Linked DNA regions of Homo sapiens. The protein of the gene in region 1 interacts with the protein of each later gene in a pairwise test. Each region holds a gene or a part of one and is shown in the gene's direction. Other genes may lie near its edges.

Region 1 (2,396 bases):
CTGGTCTGAAACTCCTAGCCTCAAGCAATCTTCCCATCTTGGTCTCCCAAAGTGCTGGGATTACAGGCATAAACAACCGTGCCTGGTCAATATCTGATGATTTTGATTGTGTATGAGGTATCATAATAATGCATTTACAGACTCTGAGCTGTATCATGTTTCTGATTTTTGTTCTAGCCGTCAGTTACTGGAGAATGACCTTAATCTTGTGCAGTTTTTGTTCAACACTTTGCTAGGGTGGATCTCTGGGAAGCATCTACAACTTGGAACACTCTGTATCTTGGTGGGACTCACATTCCAAACTGTCTTCCCTAAAAATCCTATTCTGAATTGGTTTAGGCTTTGTTCGGGCTGGCCTAGGCGGGTCTCACTGTAGTCTGTGGTCCTTACTCATTTGGTGCCGGGCTGTAGGGGGTCTCGGCTGGATGTCGACGTGGGGACTGGAGGGGGGCTTCACTCTCAATCCTCTAGCAGCTTCTCTCTGGTGAGCCTGTGGTTGCCTTGCCCTGGGAATGCACAGCCCTGCCCCGTTCCACAGATTCACAGTCAGCTTCCACAGTGTGGGGCCTGCTCTCCACACGGATCCTTCTTTCCGCTTCTCTGCTCCTCGGACTCCAGGGCTTCAGCTGCTTGAGCGCTGGCCCCTTCCTCCTCGGCAGAGTTGGGTCACTGTATTCTGCTCTGACTCCGGCTGGTGACACTGCATTTTGGAAGGTGACACTGCATTTTGGAAGCCTGCCCCAGCAGAGAGCTGGGAAATGGGAGTTTATCTCCTAAGTTTCTTCTCTCTCAGGAAGCACAGTCTGCACTGCTGGTTGACGGCTGCCTGAAAACGAGCATCTCCTAAATCTCAACTGTATAGTTGATAGAGTAGCCAGCTTTGCATCACTCACTCCAGCAGGTTCCCCAGTATGATTTCATTGTCTATATTCAGTTCTGGTCTCTTCCCCAAAGTTTCTGGTTGATGCAACAGAAGTTGCGGTTCGAGGAGCTCTTTTGGGTACCACTCATGTCTGCTTCAGCGTAGAACTAACGAAGGGAGGCAGATATCAGGCAGGTGGAGCTAAAACTGCCTGTGCATCACTGATAAATTTGGGCAGGTTTCCAAATGTAACAAGAGCTTGAAGAGGGTGCAATTAGTCACGAAACAAAGGGCCAGATAAAAAACATCATCTACGACAGAAAACTGAGTTCCAGGAAACAGCCTTGAGGAAGAAAAACAAGGAAGACAACAGGTGTGTGCTTCTGTGCTGTGGGGATGCCTGGGTCCAGGTATAAAGGCTACCCAGGGAGGCCATCCCCAGACATCACTGCCCTCTGCCTCGACCTTATCCAGCCACACGCCACCATGTGCCACACCAGCTGCTCCTCGGGCTGCCAGCCAGCCTGCTGCGCGCCCAGCCCCTGCCAGGCATCCTGTTACATCCCCGTGGGCTGCCAGTCCTCCGTGTGCGTGCCCGTGAGCTTCAAGCCAGCCGTGTGTGTGCCCGTGAGATGCCAGTCCTCTGTGTGCGTGCCCGTGAGCTGCAGGCCCGTCGTGTATGCGGCTCCCTCCTGCCAGTCCTCTGGGTGCTGCCAGCCTTCCTGCACCAGCGTCCTCTGCAGACCCATCTCCTGCAGCACCCCTTCCTGCTGCTGAGCATGAATCTCCAGACCCGCTGCTCCCAGTGCAGATGAGGCCACACCTGTACACTCCCTGGATGAGTCCTCAGTTGGTCTTCTGCACATGGTGCAGGTGAAAAGCATGCTCAGTGAACCCTCTGAATTCTGGATCGAGAATATAATAGAATGATCTGGAGCCCTGGCTGAACTTGCCTATCCCCCCAGGGAAGTCTGGGGTCCCAGAGTCATTCTCTGACCCCATGAGAGTCAAATAAACCAGCTTTCCCCATGCAACTCTGCGTTTCTTGTCTCTCTTTTTTATTTCTATACTCCCCGCTATCTATTCTGCTGATTACATAGAATTTGCTGCTAAACCCTCTTCAGTGATCCCTTCACCCAGTGCTCATCAGAAGGTGGTGTCCCGGGTGGAGGGCGCGGCTGCAGATGCCCATGTGGTCTCTCCCAGGGCTCCTGGGGCCCAGCTGCAGTGGCCACAGCGGTGACTTACCCGCCTGTGGTGGAGTGGCCTCGCTTCCCCACTGGCTGTCCACTCCTGCTCCAGGCCAGCAAGCCCTGCATTGATGGCCAAAGCCTCAGAGCACTGAGGATCGGGCTTTCCCATGTGGTTGGTGGATGTCCTGCTTCCCGGGTCGCGGAGGATCTCAGGTTTACAGAACTGGATTAGTTCTGCAGCACACACTCCCATCACTGATCTACATATGGCACTTTTTAAAAATTGATACATAATATGTTTACATATTTATGGGGCATATGAAATACTTTACACACAGAGG
Region 2 (3,216 bases), on another chromosome or scaffold:
CAGGCTTTTGAAGGCCTTGAAGGATGTGTTAGGGATTTGGAAGCCACTGGAAAGATGAGCAGGGGTGGAGAGTGATTTAGGAATGTTGTTGTCATGCTGCCCAAAGCAAAGTAGATGAAGATTCGAGGTAGAAGCACACTTCTGCACAGGTGGCCCTAAGATGGTGATGGTGGAGTGGAAGGAGCAGATGAGCCAAGAGGACAGGAAATGAGGTCGGTGTAAAGGGCAGGGACAGGCCAGGGGTGCACAGGGATGAGTCTGGATTTGGCTGCCTTGAGGGCTGTCTACAGTAAGCATACTTAAGCGGATGTGCTAGAACTAATGTCATTATTTATTTGCCACAACCTAAAGAGACAGGCAAGTATTAGTCGCCCGTCACAGAGAAGGTCCAGGGTGTCCAGGGCCCACTGTGGAAAGCTCTGCCTGGCTTGCCCCTGCTCCGCCGGCCGTTACCCGCTACCCACTCATACTGTCGTCCAAAAACTGGGCAGTGAAAAGTCACAGGTCAGATACAAATTGGACAGATTTGGTGTGAACATTTACAAGCTCATCCCGTACGCTATGTTTCAGTGGTCACCTAAATATTCTCATTTCAGGACTTTTTAAAACACATTTTCCCAAATCTAACTTGGGACAAAATCTAACTTGGGACATTTAAATAGGTTATCAATAATTATCTGTTTATGGCCTCTTTCGGCACACAAATAAGCATCTCCCTGTACAAAATTCTAGTGTATGCTGAGCTGATTGATTGCCTTCTGCATACACCTTTTCTACAACTTCTCAAACGTGTGTGACATGCTGGTAAGATGGCAGGAAAAGGAGTGACTGAATAATACAATATAGCTGAGATGTGTTTCAAGAAAACCTCTGGGCCAGGGTAGGGGTTTGTGAGCGGGAGCCAAGGACTTGCCCCATGTTTCTAATCAAGGTGAGACCACTGACACATGTGGTCAGCAAATATGTTCTATACACACATCCGCACACTGTCATCTAACCCATCCGTTCTCCCATCCACAGCATCTCCAGGACAAAGCCATCGCAACTAGGGAGGGGTTGACACCTGCTCTCCTAACATGTTTTCTTTCTGTTTCAGGCTTGAAAAACCCTTGCCCAGTTTTGATCCCTTCAAGACTTTGTCACAGCCTCTATCACACATCTGTTTTTCTCGAAGAAAAAAATATAATTAATAAAAATGTTTTACTCTTTTACACTGTATAATTGTAAGAAATAGCGTATTATTTGTGAATGCATGGTCTGAAATTTCTGTACAGTTTGGAGATATTTTCAAACGAAACGTAAGAGAAGTCAACAATAAAACCAAGAAAAGTGAGTATTTTTATACCAAACATTTTAAGTATGCTGGGATGGACGATCTTACACTGGTTTGGATCACAGTTTTTGTTCTTGACTTTTGAATGCTTGTAATTAAAAATATCTATTTTTTTCCTCTGAAGTAAGTTGCATGTTTGAGGCATGTTTCCAAATATTATCAAAATATCCTGAATTGTATTGTGAATATATAGAAATCTGTGCCTGGCCGGAGTCCAGGGTAAATTAGTAGCATGGTGTTAGATGTTAGAAACAGAACTGTTATTTGCAGTGTTAGGTCTAGGATCCCAGTTCTAGTAGGACAGCCCTGCAAGACAATCAACCAGAAGCCTCCAGGAGCTTCTACCTATGGCTTATTCACAACTGGGCAAGAAAACATCATTGGTAAGAACTGCTGAGTGTGCCCTTAGAAAGCCCTAGTAGCTCCAGCTGTGACTATATCAACTGTGTGCCAAGTGTGACTTTGTACAGTTTTATGTTTCCACTCTCCTGTATGTGTAGCCACTCGATGCCTAACCTACCTTCCACAAGCCAGCCCCGCATCCCTGCTCCCGCAGTGTAAGTGCAGAGCCTGCCTCACTGGTAAGGGAAAACCTTGGCTTGGGAGGCCAGCCCTGGCCCTTGAAGGGGTTGGCTGTGCCCAGCCCACCTGGCTGCAGTGGGCAGCTCATGTCTGTATCTCCAAAGTGATGTTTGTTTGCAAAACACCGGCTGAACTGAGCTGGTGTTGCCAACTCTTGGCAGCACTGGGCCAAACCGACCACATACCATGAGCTCCCAAATGGCGTGTGCTCACTGTGAGACGTCCTGCCACACCCCACAGGAGACGGAGGCAGTGGGCATTTGGAACCAATTCTATTCAGACTTCGTCAAAGCCAAAGTCAGTCTGGTGTTGTCAGTTGACACATCTCCAGAGTTCATGACAGCTCAACCTCTCCCCTTGTACAGAAGCCATTTTTGTAAAACCACACTGACCTAAATTCAGCTGCCAAACACAGTCTTTCCTATTGATCCGCTCGGCTTATGTTGAAAATTTCAATGTCATGATTACCTGGTTGGTTTGGGTTTTTGTTTTGTTATTTTCCATTAGAAATATAAAGATGTCAAGAAGCTTTTAAAGGTCAACACAAAAAACCAAGGCCAGGAGTGAGGGGCTCTTTCTTACCGTAAATAAGGGGAAAAGGCAGTTAGCTCAAGGACTTGTGACGGATCCACTTTGGTGTTCAAGGACCTGCTTATGCCCTCAGTGCCAATCGGCTCTTGGTGAGATGACTGTACTCCTAAGGAAAATAGCCACTTCTGCAGTCTATTATGCTTTTATAACTGTTTAAAGGTACTTTTCTATTGTCATTTTTAAAAAATAAAGTGCTTATTCCAGCTGTCACACCATTGCTTGACAAATTCTTTTTTAGCAAGACCAACTACATGTATCCCACACTGCAGACAAGACGCCAGCAGATTTCATTCCCATTGTCAGGCTTCGGCAGAGCTAAGCAAGCATTGGCCATTGAGCTTAGGCACAAAGAGATTAAAGGAGGAAGCAGATACCGGGGAAAGCCAGAGAGTAAGTCTGCAAACGCACAACCACAGTGGCTGGTGACCCACAATGACACCAGAGGCAGAGGGACCTCAAGGGAGGCCCCTCATCTACCTCAGCCTACAAAGCTTGACTCAGGATTATCTGAATTATATTAAAATGTCACTTGGGTTTTCTGCTGACTTAAATATATCTTACGCCAGGCATGGTGGCTCACACCTGTAATCCCAACACTGGGAAACTGAGGCAGGAGGCTTGCTTGATCCCAGGAGTTTGAGACCAGCCTGGACAACACAGCAAGACCCTCAATTTTAACATTAGCCAGGAGTACTAGCACCTGTGGTCCT

Evidence for each region.
Region 2: the proteins of KRTAP12-1 (region 1) and RBPMS interact in binary tests that used the Homo sapiens proteins (3 or more experiments, as listed by UniProt).

The regions. Positions count from the first base shown.
Region 1 is NC_000021.9:44,681,076-44,683,471, reverse strand, and holds KRTAP12-1 (keratin-associated protein 12-1), read left to right. Parts: upstream 1-1,308; 5' UTR 1,309-1,348; coding exon 1,349-1,639; 3' UTR 1,640-1,896; downstream 1,897-2,396. UniProt on the Homo sapiens protein: In the hair cortex, hair keratin intermediate filaments are embedded in an interfilamentous matrix, consisting of hair keratin-associated proteins (KRTAP), which are essential for the formation of a rigid and resistant hair shaft through their extensive disulfide bond cross-linking with abundant cysteine residues of hair keratins.
Region 2 is NC_000008.11:30,569,541-30,572,756, forward strand, and holds the end of RBPMS (RNA-binding protein with multiple splicing), read left to right. Parts: intron 1-1,096; coding exon of another isoform or gene 1,097-1,190; 3' UTR 1,191-2,716; downstream 2,717-3,216.